Linked DNA regions of Homo sapiens: regions 2, 3 and 4 are each linked to region 1. Evidence: fine-mapped expression QTL. A gene starts in region 1. Each other region holds a variant in brackets. All regions are shown on one strand. Distances are from middle to middle.

Region 1 (5,013 bases):
AATGAAGAATAAAAGTTATTGGGTAACAATACCAGTAACTTTATATACACTTTTGTAAATCCTCACAATCCCACTAGGTAGCAGTTTCTTCCATCTTAACACAAAAACTCAAAAAGGTTTAAGTGACTTGGCCAAAGCTAGCTAAGTAAGTTGTCCCAGGTATGTTTGATCCCACATTGTCTACCTTTTGGTAGAATTTCCCGCAATTTATCACCACGGACTCTATGTTCTGACTCAGGAATTCTTAATCTGAAGTCCATGCAACTTTGGCTGGACAAGAATTCTAGTGGGCTCCATTAAATTGTAAATGATACATTTTAAAGATAAGGTAAAATCAAGACTCTTGTACAAATATAAAATGAATACACGGTAAAGATTTAAGCACAGTCATGGGTTGCTTAACGACAAGGACACATTCTGAGAAATGCACAGTCAGGTGAGTAAGTACATCATTGAGTATGTAGTTATTCTATGATGTATTCACACAAACCTAGGTACTATTGCCTATTACTCACCTATAATCTTATGGGACCACTGTCATACATGCGGTCTGTCGGTATGTGGTGCTTGACTGTAAATAAGGGAACCAGTTAAGTGCTAAAAACCAGTTCAAAGGAGAATTTAAAAAGCAGGTACACAGGCAATCAGGAACGTTGAAATGAATATTAATAAATACTGCTCAGGACAATAATTAATTGCATCTTTACTGGACAAACCTAATTTCCATGTTGCTGTAGCGAGTTACAGGGTTGAAAAATAGTTCAAAGACCACGAAAGACATAGATAACTTGGAAGAGTGAGTCAGACAAGACACCAAGTCATTTGTGTGTGTTTGCTATTTAAAAGTATTTCGTAATTTCTCCTGAGGAAATTATATGAAAAATGTTTGTTTGGAGACGCAGCCTCTCTCAGTGGCCCAGGCTGCAGTGCAGTGGCGCGATCCCGGCTCACTGTAATCTCTGCTTCCCGAGTTCAAGCGATTCTCCCAACCAAGCCTCTTGAGTAGCTGGGACTACAGGTGTGCACCACCACTCCCCGCTAATTTTTGTGTTTTTAGTAGAGACGAGATTTTGCCATATTGGCCAGGCTGGTCTCGAACTCCTGACCTCAAGTGATCCTCCCGCGTCGGCCTCCCAAAGTGCTGGGATTACAGGCGTGAGCCACCGTGCCCAGCCTCGCAAAATGTTTTAATAGGTACATGCACGTTTTCCTGAGAAGCTAATCCATATAATTAAGTTTTCAAAAGAAGTGTGCCACAACAGGTTAAGAATCATTGTTCTGGTCACTGCTTACAACTCAAGTCCCTCAACACGTAGTGGCCTGTGTGTTCTGCTTTGTCTGAATCTTCTCGTCTAAATTTCCTTATTAAATTTTCAAGGCCCAGGTTAAATGGCATCTTACTCTTTGAGATCTTCCACCACCCTGTGTCCTATCATTTGTTTTCTCTTAAGTTTCTTTGCAAACGCACTCTGCACACCATATCTAGCAAGTGTTAGTTCCCTTCCGTAACTGGATTTTTTACTCTTTGAGGACGATGGCAGAGTCCTGCAAAAGAAGATGATAATTTTAGAATATAAATCCTCACGTTCGCTATCTTCTGGCAGCCACAGCTCAGCTCCAATCTGCGAAATACGGCACTCTCTTTATTGACTACTGCTTCTCTCGGCACCCGTACTTCCGCAAGGACGCCGTCATAGGCCGGGCGCGCCCCAAACCTCCCCACGCCGGGCCCCTATGCGCCCTTACTGTCTGAAAACGGGAACTACAAGTGCTGCCGAAGACTTTTGCGCGTGCGCATAGATAACTAGGCCAAGGAACTGATGGGTGTGCAGGACGGGGGGGCGGGGTAAGAAGGACGATAGATGATAGAGTGGACCGCAAGAAAAAGGACGGAGAGTTAATTAGACTTCGCCCAAGCTGTGCGACCCTATAGGCCGCTTGTAACTTACTCCGTTCGACTCCCAAAATACAGGGTCAAGTACTGCGGCCTTCGGACATTTCCGTCTCCGGATCCTGATAGTCTCGGTTACTTTCGCGTCATAGGATGAGCGACAACGTTTTCCGGTCCCAATTGAGAAAGACGGGCCCGGAGGCAGTGCGCGCTCCACCTACGTCACAGGCGAGGTGGTTCCAGGAGGGCTGGGCATCGGAGAGCGCGGCCGGCTGAGAGACTCGAAGCCAAGGAAGAATTTGATTGGCGATTTGAAAGCGGCGGTTTTTGGCTTAGGCGGAGGTGGGCGGGCCAAGTTTTGGGTCCTCATCTGGTGAGGTCCCGCGTTAATGACGTCACGTTGTTTCGCGGGAGAAATTCGAAAGTGGATTTTGTGCAATTTGACAGGTGAGGTGAAGTGTTTCTCGGGATTTCCTAGGAATGACTTGAGCGATTTGGGGCGAAGGGACGAAAGACTCTGCTCCTTAAGAAGAGAACCGGGAAGGATGCTGTTTGGAACCAGGATTGGGGTGGTCGCAGTCACAGCTACTCGGACTGCTTGTAGTAAGTGGTGCCTCTTCACCGTTTTTCCCAGGCCTTGCTTTGCAATTTCGAGTAGGTATGAGGACCAAAGAGGGCTTTGCTGTTTGTATTTAGGACTGAGAAAGGATCAAGTCTCCATTGTCATTTGGTGACAGGATTATGGTTCTTAGAATCTTGGCAAATGAGATGTGGGTTTCCTTTGTTTATTTGGACTGGATGGTTTGTTAACAATGTTGAGTTCATGATTCCAAAACTTTGTTATCCGAACTATTTAGAGGTTCAGGTTTAGGTTCAAAAAATACTCCTTGTTTAAAAAAAAAGGAAAAATATCTAGTATTTAAATGAATAATGGCTCATACTTTACTGAGAACACCGAGTTTTATGTATATATATTGCGTCCGTACATATAGTAGCACAATGTATATGTATGTATATGTGTGTATGTACGTATATCTGTGTGTATGTATGTATGTATATAATTATCACAGAGCATCTGGGGTCTTTAAAAACTTATTTGGAGATTAATCTTTCACCTATTAGAAGTCGGTCAACAGGTGAATTGTCTGGTAGACGTGGACAGATGAACACTTGGAAAAAACTCTTTGCATCTCACTTAAATATATATGATGCTGTTGTCTAAAATAATTTTTTCTGATTAATACTAAGATAAGAAAGGGTGTTGACTTTCAATGAATAAGTATTAGAGCTCTTCTAAATTTTAAAAGATCCAGTTAGCTTTTTTTTTTTAGGTTTTCTCCTATAATCGAATTTAACCATCCTTTAAGAGTTTCAGTCTTCTTAGTTCTTTTTAAACTGTACATTCCAGAAGTAATATCTCAATTTAGGAAAATAATGGAGAATTTATCTTGCAATTGTGAAATAGCATATAAGTTATCCTAAACTAGTAAATACTGGGTTCCTAATCTGTAAATTGTAATAATGCTTATTCTTCAGGATTATGAGACTGATAAATACTGTATGTAAAGTATCTCGTCCAATTCCTGCCTGATACATAGTATGTAATCAATAAATATATATAATTACACACGATAATCATATAATTGTATATTACATAATACAGTAATATAGTTATATATTATATAATTACATAATAATTATAATGTATATAATTAACAATATAATGTATATAATGTTTATAATATAGCACTTTGGGAGGCTGGAAGGATTGCTTGAGCCCAGGAGTTTGAGGCCACAGCGAGCTATGATTGCAACACTGCACTCCAGCCTAGGTGACAGAGTGAGACCCTGTCTCTGTAAAAGAAAAAGAAAAGTTAAAAAGCCAACAGAAACAAAACCTCCAAATAAAGCATTTAACAGTTTCTAGCATATGGTAGCACTGAATAAATGGTAGCTATTAAACAGATCTGATATTAATAATTGCCACATGCCCAGCACTGTGTCTGTACCATGTATTCTCATCTATGTATACAGCATATCTAGCCCAGGAGTGTTTTTCTCGATCTCTCTTTTATCTTCTTGGCATTCTTAGGCATCAGCAATTTATGTACGCCGGAGGGGAGGGAGATAGGATGTGGAAGTTGTATTTCTTTTTTTTTTTTTTTTTTGAGATGGAGTCTCGCTCTGTCGCCCAGGCTGGAGTGCAGTGGCGTGATCTCTGCTCACTGCAACCTCCGCCTCCCGGGTTCAAGCAATTCTCCTGCCTCAGCCTCCTGAGTAGCTGGGACTACAGGCCTGTGCCACCATGCCCAGCTAATTTTTGTATTTTTAGTAGAGACGGGGTTTCACCATGTTGGTCAGGCTGGTCTCGAGCGCCTGACCTCATGATCCACCCGCCATGGCCTCCCAGAGTGCTGGGATTACAGGCGTGAGTCACCACACCCGGCCAGGAGTTATATTTCTGAAAGGCAGTCCTTCTGTAGGTTTGGTTTCTGTCCTGTGACCTGTGTCACGAAGCAAGTATGCATATCTCATTTGCATACCCCTTACCTATTCTTTCTCCAGATCACCTTGATTAGTCAAGGGAAGATGCCAGTCACTTTCTTGCACTTCACCGCCCCCGCCTCGCCCTTTTATTTTTTTTTTTTGAGACAGTTTTGCTCTTGTCGCCCAGGCTGGAGTGCAGTGGCGTGATCTCGGCTCACTGCAGCCTCTGCCTCCTGGGTTCAAGTGATTCTCCTGCCTCAGCCTCCCAAGTAGCTGGGATTATAGGCACGCACCACCACACCTGGCTAATTTTTGTATTTTTAGTAGAGACAGGGGTTTCACCATGTTGGCCAGGCTGGTCTCGAACTCCTGACCTCAGGTGATCCACCTGTCTCGGCCTCCCAAAGTGCTGGGATCACAGGCCTGCAATTCTTGTTTGGGAAGACCTTCACTGGCCTTCCCTTGACTAAGGGTTATTTCAGCTTACAGCTTAGACTTTACTTCCTTGAAGAAGCCTTGTTTGATGATCCACACCAAGCTGGGTGCCCCTGCTGTGCTTATTCCTGCCTTATTTTATTAAAATTACTGTTTATCACCCCGCCATACTGAAATTCCTTCAGATGGAGGATAGAGTT
Region 2 (5,013 bases), 39 kb after region 1:
TTGAGGCTGCCTTGAGCCATGATCATGCCACCACACTGGGTGACAGAGTGAGATCCTGTATCAAAGAAAAAAAAACATTACCTCAAGATCATGAAGATATTCTCTCATATTATCTTGTACAAGCTTTATTAATTTACATTTCACATTTTGATCTACAGTTTACCTGTAATTGATTTTTATGTATTGAGTACATTTTATGTAAAGTTACATGTTTTCTCCATATGAATATTCAGTTGACCCAGCACCATTTATTGAAAAAGCTATCTTTTCTTCATTCCTTTGCCATGAATCAAGGGTCCATATATTAAGGGTCTCTTATTAGTTTCTCTTCTGATTTATTGGTCTGCAATTTCAGAAGTCACAAAGCATGTGTTTTCTTTCTTTCTTCCTTTTTTTTTAAACAGAATCTCACTGTGTCACCCAGGCTGAAGTGCAGTGGCATTATACAGGCTCATTGCAGCTTCAAACTCCTGGGCTCAAGTGATCCTCCCTCCACAGCCTCCCAAGTAGCTGAGACTGTAGGCACACACCACCATGCCTGGCTAATTTTTTTTTTTTTTTTTTAGACACAGGGTCTTGCTATATTGCCAGGCTGGTCTCAAACTCCTGACTCAAGCAGTCCTCTCACCTTGGTCTTCCAAAGTGCTGGGACTGTAGGCGTGAGCCACAGTGGCTGGCCTATGTACTTCCTATGTATCTTTAAATCTTCCCACCTCATTCTTCTCATTTTTTTACATTTGCATATATGTTTAGAACTAGCTTAATGGTTTTCACACATACAAGCTGGGAATTTGGATGAAATTCCATTGTGCATGTCAATTTTGGGCAGAATTAACATTTTTATAATATGTTATTGATAAATTTTCAATATTATAAAAATATTTCCCTCTATTTCAATCTGCTGCAATATCTTCCAGTAATGTTTTACAGTTTTGGTATAGAGGTTCTCTATATATTATTTGTATATTTGATTTGTAGGAGCTCTTCGCTCTTTACATACTAAGAAAATTAACCCTTTGTCATTTTTTTCCACTACATTAGTGCTTTGACTCTGATTTTTTTGTTTTTGAGAAGGAGCCTCACTCTGTTGCCCAAGCTGGAGTGCAGTGGCATGATATTGGCTCACTGCAACCTCTGTCTCCCAGGCTCAAGTGATTCCCCCACCTTAGCCTCCTGAGTAGCTGGGACTACAGGTACACACCACCAAACCTCGCTAATTTTTAAATTTTTTATAGAGATAGGGTTTTACCATGTTGCCCAGGCTGGTCTTGAACTCCTGGGCTCAACCGATACACCTGCCTTGACCCCCCAAAGTGTTGGGATTCTAGGCATCTGACACCGTGACTGGCCTGATTATGATTTTTCTAAAATTAAATGTTTTAATTTATGTAATAAGATTTGTCAGTGTTTTTTGTGATTTCTGGAGCTCAGAACTCTTTTTCACTTAATGTTTTTAATTAATAAAAACATTATTTTATTATTAATTAATAAAAGCACCTTGATGCTTTTAATAACTATTGTGATTTTGCACTGTCTTTAGCAAGAGCTAATGATTACAGTGGCTACAGTAAAATTAGTTGTTTCTGAATCCCTCCTTTATATTCTTCCAGGCACCTATAATATTAAGTTATATTATAACTTTAAGATAAATATATATTCAATGTTTTCGTTATTATAAATGTTTTAATATTTTCACTGCTGAGCCAATTGGTATACTATGATTACATTTTCTTCCCTTTATAACTTTGGGTTTTTCCGGTTTATAATTGTCTCTTTTTAAAATTTGCTTAGTGTTTTTTGAATACTGGGGCAAAGTTTTTCCATACCCTCAAAAAGCTGTATAAAATACTCCTTAATACAGGAATTCACACATACTTTTCATATAATCTGTGTCAGTTCCATTATTTTCCTATGGCATCTTTTCCAGGTTTTTCATCTGCCTGCTTCAGTATGCACTGTATAATTGACAACTTAAGAATGCCCATTGCTGCCTTCCTAGCATGAGTTGCTTACATCTTGAACACC[A/CA]TGTCTCCTTTCTTGTTATGCTGGAGTACATCTTTGAATACCTCCAAAGAAAGGGAGCAAGGGGAGATAAAATTTGGGAGACTTTGCATGTTGAAAATGGTTTTTTTTGCTTTCATACTTGATTGATAGTTTGACTTAGTGTAGAATTTGGATATGATCTGCTTTATTCTTTTTTTTTTTTTTTTCAGTGTGTGTGTGTGTGGGTACATTTTGAGACAGTCTGGCTCTGTCACCCAGGCCGGAGTGAAGTGGCACGATCTCGGCTCACTGCAACCTCTGTCTCCCAGGCTTAAGCGATTCTCCTGCCTCAGCCTCCCGAGTAGCTGGGGCCACAGGCACGCACCACCACGTCCAGCTAATTTTTTTTTGGTATTTTTAGTAGAGACAGGGTTTCTCCATCTTGGCCAGGCTGGTCTTGAACTCCTGACCTCAAATGATCCACTCACCTCAGCCTCCAAAAGTGCTGGGATTACAGGAGTGAACCACTGTGCCCACTTCTTTGTAATTTAAATTTAGCAGTGCCTTCTCTCTCTAGAATTATTATTACTATTACTATTATTATTATTATTAGAGACAAGGTCTCACTCTCTTCCTTAGGCTGGAGTGCAGTGGCACAATTATAACTCACTGTAGCCTCAAACTCCTGGGCCCAAGCCAACCTCCTGCCTCAGCCTCCTGGGTAGCTGGGATTACAGATGCACACCACCACACCTGGCTAATTTTTAAAAACTTTTTCTAGAGATGGGGTCTTCCTATGTTTTCTGGGTCTCAAACTCCTGCCCTCAAGTGTTCCTGCTGCCTCAGCCTCCCAAAGTGCTGGGATTATAGGTGTGAGCACAGTGCCTGACCCTCCCTCTAGAATTTTTTTTTTTTTTTTTTTTAGATGGAGTTTGGCTCTGTCACCCAGGCTGGAGTGCAGTGGTGTGATCTCGGCTCACTGCAACCTCCGCCTCTTGGGTTCAAGTGATTATTCTGCCTCAGCCTCCCAAGAAGCTGGGACTACAGGCGTGCACCACCACACCTGGCTAATTTTTGTATTTTTAATGGAGACAGGGTTTCACTATGTTGACCAGAATGGCCTCAAACTTCTGACCTTAAGTGATCCGCCTGTCTCAGCCTCCCAAAGTGCTAGGATTACAGGCATGAACTGCTGTGCCCGGCACAGAAACTTTTAATGACTTTAAAAAAATTCCTGGCCATGCACAGTGGCCTCCCAAAGTGCTAGATAATCCCAGCACTTGGGGAGGTCGAGGTGGGCAGATCACCTGAGCTCAGGAGTTCGAGACCATCCTGGGCAACGGGGCAAAACCCTGTCTCTACACAAAATTAAAAATTAGCCAGGCGTGGTGGCATGTGCCTGTAATCCCAGCTACTTGGGAGGCTAAGGCAGGAGAATCCCTTGAGCCTGGGAGGTAGAGGTTGCAATGAGCTGAGATTGTGCCAGTGCCCTCCAGCTTGGGCAACAGAGTGAGACCCAGTTTCCAACAACAAAAAAAAAAATCCTGATATTCTGAAATTTCGCTGTCATGTGCTTTCCTTCAGGTTTCATTAATACACTGTACTCAGTGGGTCTTTTCATCCTGTAAATACAAATCTACTTGTCTTATGAAACTTTTTAAAAAATATATTTCTTTGTTGCTTTTCCCCCCAGTGTTTTCTAGATTTTCTTTCTCGAATCTTCTATCAAATATTTTAGTCCATTGTATCCTACTTTCAGCAACACCTGTGGCCTTCAGTTTCTGAGCCCTTCCATGGTTATTGGGGCAAATCAGTTTACTTCTTATTGGGCTTTCCTTTACTAGGTGCTTTGGTTAGATTTTCTTGATATTGCCAAGTCTATACTATTCCCCATCTTCTTAATATTGTATTGTAATTCAGGATTGCCATTGCTTCTTAGTTTCATCAAAGATGGAGTTTCTGTTTCTCATCCTCTGTATATTTTGAGAGGAGAACAAAATTTAGAGGTATTCCATATTGAAAAAGAAACTTATGTCCATTATTTTTATTTCTAGTTATTGTTATCTACATCAGTTATGATTATATGCTTTATATTCTGAGTTTACAAAAATGTTCTAAAACAAAATGATTAGATCTACAAACAGATAAGTGCTTTTTTGAATAAGCGTGACATTGCTTGCATGTAGCAATCTCTGGACTTACAAGAAATTCTGTATTTTTATCAAATTCTGAGATACTACTACTGTAAAAAGCACCAGTTTGTTATACAGCACTAAGAAAGAAGAGTAGTCATTTAGACATTACACAATGTTTTTTATCCTAGACTTTAAAAACATTATAAAATATTTATTGTGGTGAAAACCATATATCATAAAATTTACTATTTCAACCAGTTCAGTAGTGTTAAGTATACTTACGTTGTTTTGAAATGGATCTCCAGAATTTTTTAATCTTCACTTAGACTTCTAATGTTATATTTATTGAAAGAATGCTTTTAAGCTTATTTGGGCATACATATATTTTGATATATATATAAATACACACACACACACACATATATACACACAAACATATATATTTATGTTTTGTAGAGACTGGCTCTCACTATGTTGCCCAGGCTGGTCTCCTATCCTCAAGCGATCCTTTTGCCTTCGCCTTCCAAAGTGCAGGGTTTATAGACGTGAGCCACTATGCTGTGTTGGGCACAGTTTTTAATTGTATATTACACTGCTTTGTTCTCTTGCCTTTCTTTGAACATAATAATTTTTTGTTCAGGGCTAAATCATAGTATAATCTTTTGAAGACATTTAAACAGCAAAATTACTTAGAACGTGTTTGATATTAGCAATGCACAGACCAATTCATATTTAAGTGATTATTAAGATGAACAGCATGACTAATTTGCATACATTTGCACATGTACAGGCAATGACAACTATGTCACAACTGTTGCCTGTGCTATAGAGATGTAAAAATGTCATCACTTTTAAAGTGTTTCCCTATTTCAAAGACATTAAAATGTAAAAAAAT
Region 3 (5,013 bases), 55 kb after region 1:
AGGGCTAGGTTACAGAGTAGAAAATGTATCATCTGAGTTTTGTGTAAAAAAAATTTACATGTGTTTGTTCTTTTTGGGTTGTGGTGTGTGTGTACTTACGCGAATGAGAAAAAAGGATAGAAATAAATGGATAAGATATTCAGTGTTTCTGGACAGTTTTCAGGTTGTTTATAGTGAACATTTTAAATCAGAAAAACAAATTTTCAAATAAGCTTTTATTCTCAGAATAATGTAATCTTTTGATAAAGAGAAAGTAAATGGAAAAGTAGGTGGTTTTAAATTTTAAATTAATGATAAAGTTAAGTCATATAGTGACTAATTTACTGGAGTACAGTAATGCCAAGCAGTCTTCATAGAAGCCTTGACAAACACAAAAATAATCGAAAAATAAAAGCATTTTTTTCACTAAATGTTGATCTTTTTTCTTTCCCCTTAGGGTCGTCTCTTTTATACATGTGATGGACCCAAAGCTGATCGATGTAAATTCTTTAAATGGCTTGAGGACGTGACTCCAGGATATTCAACACAGGAAGGAGCTCGACCTGGCATGGTTTTAAGTGATATTAAGAGTATTGGCTTATATTTAAGAAGTCAAAAGATACCACTTTATGAGGAATGCCAGCTTTTGGTGAGGTATGTTTTATAGTACCAAATAATTGCCTGTGATTATATAAGAGAACAACAGCCTTCACAGAACTATCATCAGTTTTAAAAGAGATTAAGATAGGAAAACTATTTAAAAGATGGAATACCTCAGTTTCTAAACCTGCAAAATGGGAATAAGTCTTTTTTTTTTTAATTATATAGTTACAAGCTCTTGCTCTGTTGCCCAGGCTGGAGTGCAGTGGTGTGATCCTTAGCTCACTGCAACCTTCAACTCCTGGGCTGAAGCTCTCCACCCACCTCAGCCTCCTGAGTAGCTAGGACTTCAGGCACATGCCACCATGCCCAGCTAATTTGAAATTTTTGTAGAGTTGGGGTCTTGCTATGTTGCCCAGGCTAGTTTCAAACTCCTGGACTCAAATGATCCTCCCATCTCACCCTCCCAAAGTGCTGGAATTAGAGGTGTGAGCTATCATGCTCGGCCAGGGAATAAGTCTTTAAAGTTATTTCGGCTCCCTCTAAACATCAAACAATGTCAGCAATATCAGGATAACTAGCAGGGTGCTATTTTTCTAACTTATTTTGTATATAGTCGGGGCTATTTTCCACAATCCTAAGGGAAACCCTATCCGACAAACTATAGGAATAATTTTTAGCAGTGTGGCATAATAAATAAGTGATCATTTGCATGTCTGAACTACATAGCTTATAGGGTAATAGAATGCTACTTTTTGGAAGTATGTCTTATAAAAGTTTAGATTATTCAAAATAAATATAATGACTATTTGCATGGTGATTTAGTAGTAAGATTTTTATTCGGAGCTGATATATGCCAGGCCCTCTTCTAACTAGGCACTTCGCATGAATTATTTTATGCAATTATTATAATAGCCCGTAAGATGGAGATATCGGAATAAGTTATTCCCGTTTTATAGTTTAGAAAATGAGGTTCCGCAAAAAAATAAAAATAGAACTATCATATGATCCAGCAATCCCATTCTTGGGTATGTATCCAAAAGAAAGGAAATAAGTATATCAAAGAGATACCTGCACTTTCATGTTTATTTCAGCAGTATTCACAATAGCCAAGATATGGAATCAACCTAAGTGTCCATCAATGGATGAATGGATAAAGAAAATGTGGTATGTAAACACACACACACAATGGGATCTTACTCAGCCATAAAAAAGAATGAAATCTTGTCATTTGCAGCAACTGGAGGTCATTATGTTAAGTGAAATAAACCAAAGGCCAGGCATGATCTCACGCCTGTAATCCCAGAACTTTGGGAGGCTAAGGTGGGTGAATCACTTGAACACAGGAGTACCAGACCAGCCTGGGCAACATGATGAAACGTCGTCTCATGAAACCTCGTCTCTACAAAAATTAGCCAGGTGTGGTGGCCTGCACCTGTAGTCCCAGCTACTTGGGAGGCTGAGACGGGAGGATGGCTTGAGCCCAAGGAGGTGGAGGTTGCAGTGAGCCAAGGTCATGCCACTGCACTTCCAGCCTGGGCAACAAAGCCAGACTCTGTCTCAAAAAAAAAGGAAAAAGCCAGATATAGAAAGACAAATATTGCATGTTCTTACTCATGTGTGGAGCTAAAAAAGCAGATCTCATGGAAGTAAGAGAATAGAATGATGGTTACCAGAGGCTGGGAAGAAAAGGGGGTGGGAAATGAAGAGAGGTTGGTTAAAGTGTTAAAAAAAAAAAAAAA[AG/G]GAATACAGTAGGGAAATTATAGTTAACAATAATTTATTGTATATATCAGAATAACTAGAAGAGAAGAATTGTAATGTTCCCAACACAAAGAAAAGATCAGTGTTTGAAGTGATGAATATCCCAGTTTCCCTGATTTGATCTGATCATTACACAATGTGTAAAGGTATCAGGATATCACATGTACTCCCAAAATATGTGTAACTATTATATACCAATAAACAAAATTAAATTTAAAAATTTTAAAAAGCACACGAGGTGTTCTATCTTTTAGATACTTTTCTATCTCAGTCTCTTCTAAAACTGATGACAGTTCTGTGACAGTTGTTATTTTCTTACTTTGATACAGTATATTTATATTTTGTATACATGTATGAAACTAGGTAAACATATGAAACCCTGGTTCTTTTCATACTGTATTTTAAAGATTTTCAAAAAACTTGCATCTTAATATTACAATTCATTTTTATTTTTTATTCCCTTTTCAGAAAAGGATTTGATTTTCAGAGAAAACAGTATGGCAAACTAAAGAAGTTTACTACTGTAAATCCTGAGTTTTATAATGAACCAAAAACCAAACTTTATCTTAAGCTAAGTCGGAAGGAAAGATCTTCAGCTTATAGCAAAAGTAAGTTGATCTGATCATACTGGCGATTCAGTCTAGCCTTATTATCTCCATTACATACAGCTGTATAAATTGTTTATATTAAAGAATTTTATATTAAATTTTAAAAGTATAATTTAATAGTAATATGTATTATAAACTAATTGTATAATAAATTAGACCACTTCTAAAAAACATATTTTTAAGATATTAGGGCTTTTTATTTTTATTTTTTTATTTATTTTTATTTTTATTTTTATTATACTTTAAGTTTTAGGGTACATGTGCACAACGTGTAGGTTTGTTACATGTGTATACATGTGCCATGTTGGTGTGCTGCACCCATTAACTCATCATTTAACATTAGGTATATCTCCTAATGCTATCCCTCCCCCCTCCCCCCACCCCACAACAGGCCCCAGTGTGTGATGTTCCCCTTCCTGTGTCCATGTGTTCTCATTGTTCAGTTCCCACCTATGAGTGAGAACATGCGGTGTTTGGTTTTTTGTCCTTGCGATAGTTTGCTGAGAATGATGGTTTCCAGCTTCATCCATGTCCCTACAGAGGACATGAACTCATCCTTTTTTATGGCTGCATAGTACTCCGTGGTGTATATGTGCCACATTTTCTTAATCCAGTCTATCACTGATGGACATTTGGGTTGGTTCCAAGTTTTTGCTATTGTGAATAGTGCTGCAATAAACATACATGTGCATGTGTCTTTATAGCAGCATGTTTTATAATCCTTTGGGTATATACCCAGTAATGGGATGGCTGGGTCAAATGGTATTTCTAGTTCTAGATCCCTGAGGAATCACCACACTGACTTCCACAATGGTTGAACTAGTTTACAGTCCCACCAACAGTGTAAAAGTGTTCCTATTTCTCCACATCCTCTCCAGCACCTGTTGTTTCCTGACTTTTTAGTGATCGCCATTCTTACTGGTGTGAGATGGTATCTCATTGTGGTTTTGATTTGCAGTTCTCTGATGGCCAGTGATGATGAGCATTTTTTCATGTGTCTTTTGGCTGCATAAATGTCTTCTTTTGAGAAGTGTCTTTTCATATCCTTTGCCCACTTTTTGATGGGGTTGTTTGTTTTTTTCTTGTAAATTTGTTTGAGTTCATTGTAGATTCTAGATATTAGCCCTTTGTCAGATGAGTAGATTGCAAAAATTTTCTCCCATTCTGTAGGTTGCCTGTTCACTCTGATGGTAGTTTCTTTTGCTGTGCAGAAGCTCTTTAGTTTAATTAGATCCCATTTGTCAATTTTGTCTTTTGTTGCCATTGCTTTTCGTGTTTTAGACATGAAGTCCTTGCCCATGCCTATGTCCTGAATGGTATTGCCTAGGTTTTCTTCTAGGGTTTTTATGGTTTTAGGTCTAACATTTAAGTCTTTAATCCATTTTGAATTAATTTTTGTATAAGGTGTAAGGAAGGGATCCAGTTTCAGCTTTCTACATATGGCTAGCCAGTTTTCCCAGCAACATTTGTTAAATAGGGAATCCTTTCCCATTTGCTTGTTTTTGTCAGGTTTGTCAAAGATCAGATAGTTGTAGGTATGCGGCATTATTTCTGAGGGCTCTGTTCTGTTCCATTGGTCTATATCTCTGTTTTGGTACCAGTACCATGCTGTTTTGGTTACTGTAGTATAGTTTGTAGTATAGTTTGAAGTCAGGTAGCGTGATGCCTCCAGCTTTGTTCTTTTGGCTTAGGATCGACTTAGCAATGTGGGCTCTTTTTTGGTTCCATGTGAACTTCAAAGTAGTTTTTTCCAATTCTGTGAAGAAAGTCATTGGTAGCTTGATGGGGATGGCATTGAATCTGTAAATTACCTTGGGCAGTATGGCCGTTTTCACAATATTGATTCTTCCTACCCATGAGCTTGGAATGTTCTTCCATTTGTTTGTATCCTCTTTTATTTCATTGAGCAGTGGTTTGTAGTTCTCCTTGAAGAGGTCCTTCACGTCCCTTGTAAGTTGGATTCCTAGGTATTTTATTCTCTTTGAAGCAATTGTGAATGGGAGTTCACTCATGATTTGGCTCTCTGTTTGTCTGTTATTGGTGTATAAGAATGCTTATGATTTTT
Region 4 (5,013 bases), 75 kb after region 1:
TGTTAGTGAAAATGGAATAGTATATTACTATTTTGTGATTATTTCTCAGCTTGCTAGAACTGCTAATATCCTTACTGATCTGATCTTTGGCACTATTCCAATTGCTGATGCCCTGGCAGTTGGTTTTCTCAGCCTGAACTGAGTCCAATATTACTTTTTTTTGTAGCTTGTTAAGTGGTTACTGTGGTCTAAATGTGTTCCCTGCCGTCCGTTCCCACTGCCAAATACATACTTTGAAATTTGATTGCCAGTGTATTAAGAGCTGGGGCCTTTGGGCAATGATTAAGTCATGTGGGCGCTGCATAACTTAATCCTGCATGGGATTAGTGGCCTTATAAGAGAGGTTAAAGGGAGTGCCTTGGCCCCTTTGCACCATCTGCAAAGTGAGAATGAGCCTTCACTGGTTATTCACTGGTGCTGTGCTGGCACCTTGATCTTGGGCTTTTTAGCTTCCAGAACTGCTATGAGAAATACATTTCTCATTTAAGATATTAATCATCTTAATAAATTACTCATTTAAGATATTTTGTTATGGCAGCCTGAACGGACTAATAAAATAGTCTTATGGGCTAGCCCATGTCCTGCCTTCTTAGGCCTTCTGTGGGTTTATGCAAAACCTAGGGATTTCCATTGTAGCAAACTCATCTTCCCATGTGATGTCTCTGCCCTCCTTCTTCCTCACCCTGTAATTCTGCCATCTCTTTAGTCTTTTTCTGTGTGATTCAAGTGGTACTGTATTAATTGCAGAATCTGATGCTGGTTCTTTTGTTCAGAGCACTCCCAACCTTTAGGTTGATAGTTGATGAATTATCTTTCCAGAACTTTACTTCTCATCTTGTGTATGTATATGTGTACTATAGATATATGTACACACATATGCAAATATATATAATTTCTAAAAATATAAAACCATACTGTATATGTCTGTGTAATATTTAAAAATGTTTGTCTTTTCAGATGATCTTTGGGTGGTTTCAAAAACCCTAGACTTTGAGCTGGATACTTTTATCGCATGTAGTGCTTTCTTTGGACCATCATCTATCAATGAGATAGAAATACTGCCTTTGAAAGGCTATTTCCCTTCTAATTGGCCCACTAACAGTGAGTATTACTATGCTCATTTTAGTTTATATTTAAAAAGAATGATAGACATAAGATGCACTGTTTGATTAAAGCCAACAAAAAGGACCCAACTCTAGTTTCGACTGTTGTGTACAGTGAGTTCCTGAAAATGTGTATGAAGTTGAATATATAGATATTTCTGTGAGGAAGAATGGTGTGTGGGGGATTGTTTTGTTCTAATTTTCTAATTAGATTATTCTGATTTTCTGTTTTCCATATATTTCTGTGAAGTAATTGAGGAAAAAATGCAAGAAAGTGTTTAAAAATTATACAAATACTACTCTGTGGCACAAGTGATATGTTGATTAAAGGAAACTGCTGGCTGTGAAGTTGTGCTACTAGGTACTAACTCAAAACAGGTGTTCTTGTTCATTTGCTGATATATGGAAGTCCAAATATGATTTAAATTATGCAGTTTATGCATACCCATTATAAAATGAATGAGCAGATAGCATAGTAATTTAATGAATATAAGTTTGGGATCTCTGTGTGTGTTTAAGGGTTTGTTTTATGTCATGTGCTTAATTCAGTAGCTGAACTCTGAGTTATGTGGGCATTTAACACAGAGTTTTTATGGTCCATTTTATTTACATCAAATGTTTATTTTCTGCATCCTCTGTACAGTGGTTGTCCATGCGTTATTGGTTTGTAATGCTAGCACAGAACTGACTACTTTGAAAAACATTCAGGACTACTTTAATCCAGCTACTCTACCTCTAACACAGTACCTGTTAACAACGTAAGTCATTTTTTACCTTTGAGTCATTGGTATTAAAAAATGGTAATCAGAAGTAAATATGAAAATTCAATAAAAGTACAGTATATAAATGTTGCCAATAAAATTGTAATTATTTTTCAGACTATGACATTATTCTCTGTCAGTGGTTAAAAAGAGAAAAGGGGCTGGGTGCAGTGGCTCATGCCTGTAATCCCAGCACTTTGGGAGGCCGAGGTGGGCAGATCACCAGAGGTCGGGAGTTCGAGACCAGCCTGACCAACATGGAGAAACCCTGTCTCTACTAAAAATACAAAATTAGCTGGGCATACTGGCGCATGCCTGTAATCACAGCTATTCGGGAGGCTGAGGCAGGAGAATTGCTTGAACCTGGGAGGCGGAGGTTGCGGTGAGCCGGGTGCCATTGCACCCCAGCCTGGGCAACAAGTGAAACTCTATCTCAAAAAAAAAAAAAAAAAAAAAGAGAAAAGGAATTATGCATTATTTTTCATCTGTTTATTAAGGTTTGAGCTAATAAATGTTACTGTACATTTTCACTTCATCAAGAGATAATTTAAGGATCATTTCAGTATTGATTTTATTTTTTATTATCTGTATTTTTATATTACAAATTATTTAACATTTAAAGGAATCATTTTACAGCTGGAATCCAGTGTGTATATTGCTACTGATTTTATTCTCGATATAGCCATATCTCATTTTGAATTTCTCAAGCACCATGTCCCTTTTTAAAAAATTGGAAGTGATATTATATTAAATGCATTAAAATTGATAGGAAAATCCAGTTTTCAATTTGGAATATTATTATCTACCTGTGATGTTTTATTTTTCTCACTACAATGAAGTCCTAGGTAAAAAAATAAATATCCTTTGATTTCATTATGTTATTTATCCAATTTGAAATGAATTTTCATGGAAATAGAAATAAGACCAATTCATGTGATGTAGTTTTACCTGAAATGAGGGCTAGATTAATTATCTAAGTTAGGTTTGTATAATAGAGCATGGGTTTTAAAGTCAGTCCGCCACTTATTTGTGGTGTGGTATTGGGGGAAAAAATTCAATATTCTTGTATCTGTACTTGGGATAATTAACTA[ACTAT/T]TTCCTAGTGTTGTTGTGAAGATTTCATCAAGTAATATGTAAAATGCTCAACAAAGTGTCAGCATGTAGTAAGTATTCAACAAACGTCAGTTCTCTTCTACCCTCCTCGATATTGGAGTATGTATCCATTTACAGTATATATCCACTTACTGTTTATTTCCATAAAAAACTGTTCTCTGTAATGCTTACAAAGTGATGGCTAAGTTATGAATTATTCTACTCATCTTTTTCAAATGCCCCTTTTTTTAAAATTGTTTATTTGCTTCATTTTTATTAGGTCTTCGCCAACTATAGTTAGTAACAAAAGAGTCAGTAAGAGAAAATTTATCCCACCAGCCTTCACAAATGTCAGTACAAAATTTGAACTACTCAGCCTAGGAGCAACATTGAAGTTAGCTAGTGAGTTGATTCAGGTACACAAGTTAAACAAGGATCAAGCTACAGCTCTAATTCAAATAGCTCAAATGATGGCATCACATGAAAGCATTGAAGAAGTGAAGGAACTGCAAACTCATACCTTCCCTATCACAATCATACATGGTAAGAAGCAAGAAAGAAAATAATTGTAATTGTTTTCTATTTGTAAGCTTTTGTAACTCAGTCTGCTCCTTTATAATTTCCTAGTCAAATGAGGTTCAAGAATAACTCTAAGTAGACTTTTTAAACCTGTACCCACTTTGGTAAACTGTTAGATGAGAACAGAACTGACTACCCTAAAAGGGAGACTTATTAGCATATCTGATGAATGAGTAGCATTATAAACTTATGGTCAAAGTATCCAGATTGATCTAGATGTTTACATGTTGCTCTCCTATAGTAAACTTAACTTGATCAGCAAAACCTTTTATTTATTCCTAGTCAGCTCACTCTTCTATCCTTTATATCAGTGATTACAAACCTTAATTCTTCTCATAACCTCATTCTTGTCCTTTCTCTTGATCTTGCCTCTAAAAGAGGAAATGGAGGTCATAACAGAAACTGCTTTCAATATCCTGCCTTCCTTCTCCAATTTACCTAATTTTGGAGCTATTCTTACCGCTTGGTTCTGTCACAGTGAAGGCGATTTACTTCCTCCTGCTTACAGTAAATAGTTCTATCTGGACTCTGTTGCCTCTGTAGCACATTTTCTCTCATAGACCTCCACCCCAAAGCTAATCCTACTTTTCTGTCCTATTTTGAGGAATTATGTCATATCCACCCTGTTGACCAAATCAAATCTGAGAGTGATCGTAGATTTTTCTTTCTCTCAAGATTAAGTGACTCTCTCTTAATCCTCCTCATATTCTCTCACTATTCATCTCCCGCCATCAGATTAGTCACTGAGATGTGTTCCTTCTAGCTTCTATCCATCTTTCATATTGAGTGTCTCTTCTCCAGTTTACTTGTATCCCCTCAATCCAAGCCTTCATCATACCTCCATATAGCCTAGTGGGTAAGAGTGTGGGGTCTAGAGTTAGAATCCTGAATTTACGTTCTGACTGTATCATTTGTTAGCTGTATGATTTTGGGCAGGTTATATATCTCTTAATCTTTAATTTCCTACTCTGCAAAATGGAGATCATAATAGCATTCACCTCATAGGGTTGGAGGATTAAATGAGTTAACATACATAAAGGGCTTAGAACAGTGCTTGGCACATGGGAGGTGCTTAGTAAAGTTAACATTTATTGTTGTAATTATCTCACACAACTTTCTAATTGATCTACCACTAGTTTTGCCTTACTTCATATTTTCATTCAAGTTGTTTTTTAAAAACACAATCTGATTAAGTCAAACCCATTGCTTGGCCTCACACCTGTAATCCCAGCACTTTGGGAGGTCAGGGAGGGTAGCTCGCTTAAGCTCAGGAGTTCAAGGTCAGCCTGGGCAACATGGCAAAATGCTGTCTCTACAAAAAAATTTAAAAATTAGCTGGACATGGAGGCATGCACCTGTAGTCCCAGCTACTTTGGAGGTTGTGGTGGGAGGATGGCTTGAGCCTGGGAGGCAGAGGTTGCAGTGAGTCACGATTGCGCCACTGCACTCCAGCCTGGGCAACAGAGCCAGACCCTGTC

Alleles and levels. Positions count from the first base shown, and alleles are read on the strand shown. Sizes are in standard deviations (SD) of each study's normalised expression. Not every link is listed here.
With allele CA in place of A in region 2, the expression in testis of the gene that starts at base 2,280 in region 1 is lower (small effect, 0.28 SD a copy in GTEx).
As copies of G replace AG in region 3, the expression in prefrontal cortex of the gene that starts at base 2,280 in region 1 goes down (moderate effect, 0.52 SD a copy in CommonMind).

Evidence for each region. PIP is the estimated chance that this variant, and not a neighbour inherited with it, causes the effect.
Region 2: its variant is fine-mapped to the expression of ZGRF1 in testis (GTEx, PIP 0.94).
Region 3: its variant is fine-mapped to the expression of ZGRF1 in prefrontal cortex (CommonMind, PIP 0.95).
Region 4: its variant is fine-mapped to the expression of ZGRF1 in tibial nerve (GTEx, PIP above 0.99). The same link has a PIP of 0.9 or more in esophagus muscle, gastroesophageal junction, sun-exposed skin and whole blood.

Annotation. Positions count from the first base shown.
Region 1 is chr4:112,634,176-112,639,188 of GRCh38, reverse strand. It overlaps ZGRF1 (zinc finger GRF-type containing 1), which reads left to right and starts at 2,280. Exons shown (of 28, transcript NM_018392.5): 1 at 2,280-2,338. LARP7 (La ribonucleoprotein 7, transcriptional regulator) reads right to left here and starts at 2,046. Exons shown (of 13, transcript NM_016648.4): 1 at 1,950-2,046. RefSeq lists enhancers at 1,494-1,603, 1,644-1,693, 2,264-2,483.
Region 2 is chr4:112,595,106-112,600,118 of GRCh38, reverse strand. All of the region lies in intron 10 of ZGRF1 (zinc finger GRF-type containing 1), which reads left to right. Among named protein-coding and RNA genes, the nearest start is that of ZGRF1, 39 kb to the left of the region's middle. The variant A/CA (reference allele first, on the strand shown) is at 2,026.
Region 3 is chr4:112,579,598-112,584,610 of GRCh38, reverse strand. It overlaps ZGRF1 (zinc finger GRF-type containing 1), which reads left to right. Exons shown (of 28, transcript NM_018392.5): 15 at 437-633; 16 at 2,809-2,948. Among named protein-coding and RNA genes, the nearest start is that of ZGRF1, 55 kb to the left of the region's middle. The variant AG/G (reference allele first, on the strand shown) is at 2,322.
Region 4 is chr4:112,559,219-112,564,231 of GRCh38, reverse strand. ZGRF1 (zinc finger GRF-type containing 1) reads left to right here. Exons shown (of 28, transcript NM_018392.5): 17 at 958-1,101; 18 at 1,747-1,861; 19 at 3,237-3,499. Among named protein-coding and RNA genes, the nearest start is that of NEUROG2, 46 kb to the right of the region's middle. The variant ACTAT/T (reference allele first, on the strand shown) is at 2,956.